Regions from separate parts of the Homo sapiens genome. Here region 2 is linked to region 1. The links come from fine-mapping of genetic effects on gene expression. A gene starts in region 1. The other region holds a variant in brackets. All regions are shown on one strand. Distances are between the middles of the regions.

Region 1 (5,376 bases):
GCAACCTCTGCCTCTCAGGCTCAAGTAATTCTCATGCCTCAGCCTCCCGAGTAGCAGGGATTACAGGTGTGTCACCACGTCTGGCTAATATTTTGTATTTTTTTGTAGAGATGGAGTTTCACCATGTTGGCCAGGACGGTCTCGAACTCCTGATCTCAAGCAATTCACCCACCTTGGCCTCCCAAAGTGTTGGGATTACAGGCATGAGCAACCGTGCCAGGCCATTGCTAACCTTTTCTTTGGAAACTTGTGTGCTATAGCTAAACTGAAGGAATCTGGGATGATTTGATGATGGTCCTTACCCAGGTCTGGACTGGTAGGTCTAGGTCCTAGTTTTGGCTCTGGCCAGCTTTGGGCAAGGCGGTTTCACTCTCCTAAGTCCCACATGTCTCCTGTATAAAATGTTGAGGGGGGTGTACTAGTTAATTTCCAAAGCCCTTTCCAGGTCTCACATTCCTTATGTCTATGATTCTGTGATTAAGTTCCTGGAAGTTTAAGTACTGATAAAAGTGCCATTAAGTTCTGTATACTCAGCACTAGCAGCTGTCTGTTACCTAAGATACCTGGGCCTAGGAGTTATAGGGTGGGGGCTGGGGGCAGGGTGGGTGGATGAGAAAGGCTCCTTGTCTGACAACTGTGTGTATTGACTGTAGACAACAGAGGACTGCCCAGCACTGTGCAGTGTAACTGAGTATCCTCTGATTTCTGGGCTGTGATATACTAAGACTGACCATCAAAGACTGTTTCCCAACAAGAGAACCTTGTGCAGTAAGTTCCTCAGGCAAGAAGCGAGATAATTGGGACAGGATTGAATAGATCTCAGGCAGAGAAACTTGGGGGACAGATCAATGTAGGTAATGAACTGGTTGACCCAAGGCCTCTCTGTCTATCATTTTTTGACCTCAGGTCAGAGCGATAGAAAGGGGGAAAACTACCGACACAGCTCCTGCCATGAAGTCCTGGAGAAGAATAAGTGACTGTTTGTCCCGCATGGGTTAGTCATTCACCTGCCTGAAGGCAAAGGGCTGGGAGTCTGGAGTCCATGACCTGCTGGGACATACTTTGGGCTGCATTTTTTCCCCCTTCTAATGTCTCAGCTCTCAGGGATCTGCTTTTCCTGGTGCCAAGGAGTATGGATGAAATTTTGTCCCTCCTCCATGCACCCCTATAAAACAAATATGATGAGAAATTAATATTTTCCAAATGGTGACCTAACCTTTGTTCATTAATTGAGCTCCTATTGCATTCCAGGTACTGTTAGAGGCCAGCAAGATACCTAGATGATTGAGACAGAGTCCTCGCCCTCCATGAAGTGACTGTTCATTTTAAAACCCTAAAGCTGGGTTCTTAGAGGCTACTGCAACAGCAACAACTCCCGAGTGAGTGCTTATCATGTGCCAGGCTCTGGTTACAGGCTTTAACTCTCTCAGTGGAAACAGCCTGAGTGCTGGCTTGGCTACCCCATGTCTGTGAGACTGTGGGCAAGTCATTTACTTTCCCTTTGAGTTTCAATTTCTAAAACTGTAATATGGGGATAATATATGTAAAACAGCTAAGAAGTATATACTTTTAATGACTCTTTTTAGTGTCAATGGAGGATTTGTGAGCAAATGCATATAAAACACAAGGCAAACAGGAGGTATTTAGTAAGTGGCCACGTGATTATTGAGAGACTATGGGCTTCTTCCTGTTCCTCCAGAGCAAGACTGACAGGTGTCCTATTACCCTTGCATCTTCAGAGCCTAGAGCACAGCCCTGAAAACAGCAGGCGCTCACCACTTTTTATGATCAAAGGCAGTCTCTACAGGGAAAGTCAAATCATTATGGGTATTTATGAATTACAAAATCCATAAAGTTAAACCAGGAGAAATGGACAAAAACACACTCATTGTAGAGGTCTTTAATGATCCCTTGGCTCATGGCAGAGCAGCTAGACAAAAAACAAACAAACAAACAAACATGCAAAGATTCAGAAGGCCTGAAAAAATAATGAATACAAAGAAGATAAATCGATACAGTATTCTATCTTCACATTCGGAAGACAAAAACACCTTTCAAAAAACCATGGGACATTGGCAAAAATAACCACAGATAATCCTCAATAAATCTTGCCAGGAGGCAGTACAGATGACATTGAATTCAGTGAGACTACAAATTAAAGACAAAAAGGCGAAGTATAAATTACTTGTGTAAGAACTCTCTCAACTCTTGGGTCCAAGAAGAAAGCAAAAGGGAAATTGTATGATAGCAATAAATGTGCCATTACCCAGAGTCACACAGCTAACAGTGACACAGCTGAGGCTGCTAGAACCTGGGTCTACTGTCGTCCAGCCACGAACTGGCTTGAGATCCCGGATAAGTCTCTCTGAGCCTCGGTTTCCCCTTCTGTCAAGTAGCCTCGAAGGTCCCCGGCGCTCGGTTCGGTGGCGAGTTTGAGGAGTGTGGGGGAGGGGAGGGGAGGGAGCGTGCCCGAGACGCGGGAGCCGCGACCGCTTTCTGCGAAGTCGGGGAGGGTGCGGGCGTTGAGAGGCTGCAGCAGAGGGCGCTGGGTCGCCAGCCTGGGCCGCGTCTCCCATTGGTCGGGGCTGGGGCGCTGGGCTGGAGAGTTGGTGGAAAGTGACAAGTTGAGCGAGAGAGGGAGCGTGGAGAGCTGGAGCAGCCGCCACCGCCGCCGCCGAGGGAGCCCCGGGACGGCAGCCCCTGGGCGCAGGGTGCGCTGTTCTCGGAGTCCGACCCAGGGCGACTCACGCCCACTGGTGCGACCCGGACAGCCTGGGACTGACCCGCCGGCCCAGGCGAGGCTGCAGCCAGAGGGCTGGGAAGGGATCGCGCTCGCGGCATCCAGAGGCGGCCAGGCGGAGGCGAGGGAGCAGGTTAGAGGGACAAAGAGCTTTGCAGACGTCCCCGGCGTCCTGCGAGCGCCAGCGGCCGGGACGAGGCGGCCGGGAGCCCGGGAAGAGCCCGTGGATGTTCTGCGCGCGGCCTGGGAGCCGCCGCCGCCGCCGCCTCAGCGAGAGGAGGAATGCACCGGCCGCGCCGCCGCGGGACGCGCCCGCCGCTCCTGGCGCTGCTGGCCGCGCTGCTGCTGGCCGCACGCGGGGCTGCTGCCCAAGGTAAGAGGCGCCCGCCGGCCCCCGCCCGCCCAGACCCCCTGACCCGTGGCCACCCTTCCGCCGTCCAGCCGGGCGCGGGACACGCAGGAAGCGCCGCGCTGGCTCCGGGGCGCGTCCGGCCACCCGCCACGGGGCTCGCCGGCGCCGCCAGGCCAGGGTTTGCCCCGGAGCCCCGCCAGGCCAGGGTTTGCCCCGGAGCCCCGCGGCGGGCCGGGGCGCGCCCAGGGACTCGTTCCTCGGTGCGCAGCAGCGATTGTCAGCGCTGACAGGAAGCGTGGAGGGGTTTGAGGGTCCTGGGGGTGATCGGGGCACTTCTGTGCAGGGCGTCCCCCCTTGTCTCCCTGGACCTCTAGCGCGCCCCAGCCGGTGTTCAGGCAAGTCTATCCTGCCCCCAAGTTGCGAGCCGGCCCGGAAGGCGCGGTCCAGGAGGGAGTTTGGATTTTCAGTGGTGCTCGCCAGAGCCCAGGCGGCTCGCGGATCGACGCAAACAAAAGCCCTGTCCTCCTGGGGCTCCGGCGGCCTCGCATCGCCACCGCCCCCGGCCCTCCGGCCCTCCCGAGAGTCATCATAGAGGCCAAAACTTGTGCGCCGCTGCAGCCGCTGCCACTTTGTGCAAAATGTGCTGTCAGAGGCGGCCTGCGGCTCCAAAGTGCTTTGGGTGTGCACGCGCGCGCGCGCGCGTGTGTGTGTGCGTGTTACAAACAAGAGGGGGAAAAGCCATCTAATGCATATTTGATTTTGGTAATCTCTAAAGACAATCGCAACAGTTAGAGAAAGACTTCACCGCAAGCCGGAGCGTCTTAGTTCGCTGCGGGAAGCTGGGGTCCTTGCTGCGTCTGAGCCGGTACACAATGAGAGGGAAGAGCCCGGCTGAGCCTGTGGAGACAACCGATTCATTCTTTGGAGGTTGGAGGGGGAAAGTTGATTAAAGTCTCCGGGGTCTCGGGCCTCACTTTTAACATGCATCCCTTGAGGGGGTGAGGAGCCTTTGGATTCTGCCCTCCCCCACTCCCAGCCCTAAACCTGAGCGGATAAATAGATCTCTGCTCTTTTATCATGCATCTTTCATTTTTAAGTTAGCACTGTGTTTAGGAAAAGAAAAAGTTCTGCGCTACTTAGCAGTTGAGAGGAAAAAGATGTATTCACTACATAGACTACGAATGCAGAATTAGTTTTTACTAAAAGTTAGCTGACTTTCTTGGTAGAAAACACACTCTGGAAGGAAGTTGTGTGAAATTTTGATTTCTTAGAGATGGTTTTTGGAAGCTAGAGTAGCATTTTCTGAGGATGATTTCTGAAACGGATCCTATAATGTGGTCGTGCTAATCTGAAAGCTCCTGGGGGTAAATAGAGCTCCTAATTGTAATTAAGATGTGCATCAGCAGGGAGTGCACCTTCCTGATGAAAAATCCTAATGAAATGTAAACAGCTTGGTCACATAGATGTTTTGCTTGGTGATGCCAAACATCTGGCCTTGCGCCACAACACCTGGGTGAAAAGTAAAAATGGGCCATGCTGCCTAAGTAATGTAAACATCCTTCTCAAGTTGGGTTGCCCAGCAAATTGAGGTGGAGATAAGCAGGGTGATTTTAACTAAGGTGGGACTCCTGGCTTGGGGCTTTGGTTAATTCAGTTATTTCCCCTGTGGACTCCTTTACTTTGTACTTCACCTTTCAACAATAGTTGCTTTTAGATCATAGCCCCTTGTGGGGGTGGGGGTCACTTACCTTTAAATACATGTCCCTGCATTGATTTTGCTCACTGTAAACACCCTTCTTATCAGCAGCCACCCCAATTCTGTCTCCTTTAACTGTTTACAGCCTTTTAGAGTTGTTTAAAAAAGGTATTGCCTATTCCATTGTAGCAGGAGGAGCCACAGACAAAACTCCTCAGACACCCAGTGAGCAATTCCTGTCCCTTTTAAGGGCTCACAACTCTAAGGGGGTCCACGTGAGAGGGTCATGATGGGTACATGACTGGGGGCTGCATGCACTGGTAATCAGAACGAAACAGAACAGGATAGGGATTTTTACACTGTCTTTCCATACAATGTCTGGAATCTATAGATAACATAACCAGTTATGTCAGGGGTCGATCTTTAAGTACCAGGCTTAGGTCAGGCAGGCCCAGGCCTGGTTTCGGGTCTGGTTCCTTGGTTTCAGGTCTGGTTCCTAGGTGCCGGGCTACCTGCCTTTAATTTCGCTTCTCTTTCCTTTTCTGAGTATAAAACAATATAAAACAATATGAGAGGGTCTGTCTCTCT
Region 2 (5,376 bases), 140 kb after region 1:
GTTATGCAAAGCTGAGAACCTGTAAGTCGAGGTAGGAAGAAGACAGTTCAAATCCCTTCGGATGACTCTTGGGCAGTCTAAAGTCTGATCCCAATTTATCTTTCCAGATTGTTCTATTAACCTGGCCAAACACCAAATCTTTTGTGTACACATGACCGTTGGAACCCTCTTCTCTGCTTGGCAAACTCTAAACCCTCCTTCAAGAACCAGTTCAGAAGTGATCAGTGTAATCAGCCATTTTAAAAAATTGGTTTAAATCTGTACCCCTCCACCCCCATTTCTGCTTCATCTCTCCCCAAGGCAGAATCAGTCTCTCTTCTCTGTTGCTTCCATGCACCTTGGCTGATGGACACTGTTAGAATTGATGCTCACAGCTTGGGAGAGCAGATGGGGTCTGGGAGAGCCTCCTGAGTTCACTGGCACAGGATCATACAAGACAATATGTGTGAAAGTCAGTGGTTAATTGCAAAGCACTGTACCACTGTGTTCATAGCTACCCTTTATTGAATACATCGTGCTTGGTATTTTCTCATCAAATCCTCACAACAACCATTTGAAGGTAGGTATTATAGTCATCTTTCTTTTAAACATACAAAAACTGAGTCTCTAAGAGGTTAAGAAGTGGGCTGCCCATGGTCACATTAAATAGTAAGTGGCAAAGTTACATTAAACCCAGTTCTGACTCCACCATCTCAACCCATGTCACCATTTTTCTGGGCCTGTGGGCAATGCAGACGTGAGGGAGACCTGGTCTTTGCTGTTAAAGCTTCTAATCTGGGATGGAGATAAGGCAGTCACTGCCCCCTGGTGTATAGTCTAAGGTGGGATACAGGCTCTAAGAAGGGTGCACATAAAAAGTGTTTGGAGAGCAATAAAGAGGCTTTGTGGAGAGAGCTTTCCTTCCCTGCACCTTGAGGAGTGGGCAGGGTTTTTATAGCAGACTTAGAGAATAGGGAATGGCAGAAACTACATGAATAAATGCTTAGTGGAGTATAAGAAGAGTGCAATGGAGAGAAGGGTATGAGACTAAGGCTATCTTAATCATATGACTATTACCAAGGACTTAGAGCCCACAACATCTCCCACCCTCTGCCCCCTATCCTTGGTCTTTTATGATGGGAGATGGTTGCTAGCCTGCATTTAGGGATAGCTATGCTTATACAGAACTTCTCACACAGAGTAGTACTGCTTCCCTGGGTTTGGAAGCATTTTTGATTTTGCCAGAAAGATTGGCAGGGGGTGGGGTGGGGTGGATGCATGTGAAGCCGGGGGGGTGTGCTACAATTGGCACTTGGTGCTCCCTGAACCAAATATACTAAATATCTTGTAATGGATGCATCAGTCCTACCCAGGGAATAATTCTCCCACTCCGGAGACCCAGTATCTCCTGTGTGGGATCCCCCATCTACAAGTATACATGTAAACTTTCCCCTGGGCCACTGCAGTGTCCCTCTGGGAAACATGAATCTGTTCCTGGCACCTCTCTAGACACTCTAGAATGGTTCAGTTGTTTTATCCCTATACATACTTGACCTCCAGAACATGCTATTTATGCTACTCCCAAAGCTTATAGCTGAAAACAAACATTTCTACCCTATTTTTCTTCCCTTGAAATATCCTCTGGCTCTGAGGTCATTTAAGGAATAGGCAGCCCTTGCAGATTTTTGTAAGTTTCCTCTTCGCATGAACAATAACTGCAAAATGATCCATCTGATCTGGCTACCATTGTTGAAGGCAAGAGGATACAAAGAGCATTCATCGGGCCAGGCGCCTTCTCAAGAAGGGCTCATCAAGGTGGAAAACCAAGTGGCACATACTTGTGGAGAAAGTTTGAAAGGAGTAGGGGTTAAGGGAGTGGTAGGGATTGAGGAAAAGCCTAATAACATGGTAATAGGAGATAACAGACTACAAAACCCCTGTGAAACCAGGAATAAAAGAGCCCCATGCTTCACAAATACAAGATTGAATGAGTTTCATGTTTAATGTAAATACACCTGCCATTTGTTCTCTGAAGCACTGGTTACAGGTTTTGAGATAAAATAGAGTTTTGAACATTGTGCCAGTGTAATTTGCCTTTGCCCAGGCATAGACTGTACACTTTGTTCCTGAACAGTCCTTAGAGACAACATAGTGCTCTGATCAGCTCAAAGGTCCCACCTCCTGATGTGAGACCTCTGCTTCCACCTGGCCTGCATCTGAGACTCCTTGGCTATTGACAGAGTAGGGGGAAGTGAGACAGTGGCCCAGGGTGCCAGTGATCTCATGGCTAAAGTGGATCATTTTACTCTCCTGCATTGAAGTTACTCACTGCATTAAGGGTAAAGAGCAAAACCCTCAATTTCTCCTATAAAGCCCTGGCCTACCTTTTGCTCAAGTCTCACCATTCTCTCTGCAGTTGCTCAGGCCTACTTTCAGTTCCTAGACTGTTACTGTGCAGGGTCCAGCCTCAGGGCCTTTGCTGTCCTCTGCGTGTGAGCCCTTCTGCTCCCTTCCCCTTCAGCTTTCAATTCTTCTTTCCTTAAGTCAACATTACATATTATTTCTTTACGGACACTGTCCCTGAACCCAACCTCACAGCAGAAGACATCAGGTGACCTCTTACATTGGTCACTGGGCACCATACTTTCCCTGTGGCTCCTGTCCCAGTTTATAATTATACATTTGTGTGATTACCTGATGAATGTCTCCTCTTCCACTGGACTGTGAATTCCATGAGGGTAATTCTGGCACTCAGTCTAAGCCTGACACCTGGCAGGTACTCAAAGGGTATTTGTTTAAGAAATTAATTATTAAATGTATCACAGATACATCAGAAGATGCAAATAAGCAAACAGGAAGAAAAAAAGCAATCACAGTTCTACAACCAAAGAAAAGCCACTTTCCATTTTTTGGCATATACTTTAAAATTTTTTTTCTATTCTATAAAATAATATGATTTTCCCTTAATAGTATGGTAAACAGGATTAAGCATCCACTAAATTTAATTTGCCATCATTTTATTCAACCAATCCCCTATTGCTAGACTCAAATCAGATTTGTATGATCTATTGTTTCATGGAAACCGATGCAAAATTATAAAAAATTAAATCATTTTTGCTTCTCAATCAGCATTTTACTTTATCCAAAAGGAGTATATGATGAGAAATCAAGAGTGACTGTCCAGGAAAATGGAGATGTGGCAGATGGAGCTGCAGAC[C/A]ACGTGGGGAGAGCCCTGGCCACAGGAAATGACTGTGGTTGGTAGAGGGGAAAGTATTGGACAGTTAAGGAGTTGCCACCTGCCCCTGGTGGAGGCAAATGTTGTTTTGTGGAAAGCACGTGGCATAATGACAGGGCCTCTGCAGGCTCAGTGATGTGGGTGAGCAAAATGGCTGTCTTGGGATTATCTAGGAGCTTCTGAAGGCAGTAGGGTGGTGGCTAATTTCTTAATGCTGCTCTCCCATCCTAGTGATGGGCAGAGAGGATGAGAAAGCCAGCTCTGGGGAGACAACTGTTGTTCCAAAGTGAGGAGTCACCACTACCTGCCATCTCGCAGACTCTTGTCTAGTGCCCCCTTGAGGCCATGCTTGTTGTTAGCCCTGACTCGGGTGCCCCGGCACCTGCCGTAAACCAAGCTAGACCCAGATTGCGTTTGGGTGCCTGGAACAGGAGAAGTTTTAGGAATTTATGTTAGAGATTCACCATGTTGTACTTTCTGCCAAAGCGTCCCTCCCTGAGTCAGAATAGTGGAAGGCTGACTATATTCCACCCAGCACGACGCACTGAATGCTTGGTATGAGCAGCACATCATACGACAGGAATCTCACAACAAAGCAATGAAGTAGTTACCACTATGATCTCCACCTTATAGATGAAGTACCTGAGACTTGGAAAGTGTCAAAACCAGAATTTGAACGCAGGTCTGTCTGAGCCCAGACCCTTTGCTTTTTAAACCACTCTTTATGAAGAATCTCAGTAGGTTCTTAAGAACGGGGCGTGGTACTCTCTAGAGCGTTTGTGACCCAACACTATGAATTGAAACAAGGCAAGCTCTGTGCTCCCATTTGGGGAAAGTTAATATTTCACATGCTCTCGAGAATTTAGGAGCTTGGTAAAAACTTACTATTAAACAGGGCTTTTCTTTAATTCCTTTTGTTTAAAAATTTTCTTGTGAAACACTCTATATACTGTGCCTCCCTCTGAGACGTCAGTGGTGCCAGAGACCGTTAGGGAGTTTGTGTAAATAGAGAGAGGGCCAAATGCTGCCCACACAAGTAGTGAGGCATGAGGCTGAGTGCGTGGAACAGTTCCATAGCTAGCCCTAGGCTCTGAAGAGTGTCCTGAGACCTCATCTGGGTCCCAAAATCGGTGGGCAGTGCTGTCTCCGCGAGACAATGACCAGCATGAGGAAATACCTTTAACCATTCATCTTTTTAAAAAGATAAGTTTGCTAAGCAAATAAAACCAGTTAGCCTTGAAAGTTCAGTATTAATGAATGTTAATGCATATCTTGAGATTTTCTAAAAAACTGACAAATCTTCCAAAAGACAGGAATATCTAGAGGGTAAATAACAGGACTAAAATGCTTTGAAACATCTTTGAAATGATGGTTCAATGCACAGGGTCAAAGGGTAGGACTGGTTCTCTTCAAGCATTTTAAAAAAATGCCTCATTTTTATTTAACATTGTTTTGGGAAGGAGTGCATTATATTGACACATTGAGAAAAAAATTCCTTTTTGTTTTTCTAAAACTAATAGGAGCTTAGGCATTATGATTAAGGACCAAAAAGAGCCAATGCCGATGAATGCCCTCTTTCTTCAGCTGTAAAATTTAATGGCCGCTACCGAGAGGTTTTTCTTTTAATCAGCAAAAAATTTATTTTGTCCTTGACATTTTATGCCAAAAATCAGCCCAGAGAATGTGTTTTATAGCCTGGGCTGAATTCCCCTAAAGGTAGAGTTTTCCTATGAGCAGTGTTCATTGAATTGGCTTTTTTTTTTTTTTTTTGCACTAGATAACTATATTAATTTATTAGATAATCTTTTTATTGTTTCAGCAAGATAGAGGAAACTTACACAGAGACAGCAGAGCATAATGGGTAAGCATCTGGGTTCTTTTGGAAGACGAGATATTGGTTTCCATTGGCCTTGCTACTTCCTGTCTTTCTGACCTTGAGTAAATTACTCTTCCAGAGCCTGTTTCTTTGTTCAATTGGGGATCATAATAGTGCCGCCGTCATCATGCTGTCATGATTAATGCACCTAAAGCATTTAGCACAGCTGTCAGCACTTATTGAGTATTGACTAATTATTAGCGATGCACAGTGATCTATAACTTAAAGCTTCGTCTCAGAATATGCCTTCTTATGATCTGATAGTAATAGGAATCAGCAGAAAATA

Alleles and levels. Alleles are on the strand shown, and positions count from the first base shown. SD is a standard deviation of normalised expression in the study named.
As copies of C replace A in region 2, the expression in cerebellar hemisphere of the gene that starts at base 2,622 in region 1 goes up (large effect, 0.90 SD a copy in GTEx).

What was found. PIP is the estimated chance that this variant, and not a neighbour inherited with it, causes the effect.
Region 2: its variant is fine-mapped to the expression of ROR1 in cerebellar hemisphere (GTEx, PIP above 0.99). The same link has a PIP of 0.9 or more in cerebellum.

Annotation. Positions count from the first base shown.
Region 1 is chr1:63,771,396-63,776,771 of GRCh38, forward strand. It overlaps ROR1 (receptor tyrosine kinase like orphan receptor 1), which reads left to right and starts at 2,622. Exons shown (of 9, transcript NM_005012.4): 1 at 2,622-3,113. The coding sequence starts at 3,023. RefSeq lists silencers at 2,689-2,738, 3,523-3,817 and an enhancer at 3,683-4,246.
Region 2 is chr1:63,914,522-63,919,897 of GRCh38, forward strand. All of the region lies in intron 1 of ROR1 (receptor tyrosine kinase like orphan receptor 1), which reads left to right. Among named protein-coding and RNA genes, the nearest start is that of ROR1, 140 kb to the left of the region's middle. RefSeq lists a silencer at 3,541-3,610. The variant C/A (reference allele first, on the strand shown) is at 3,197.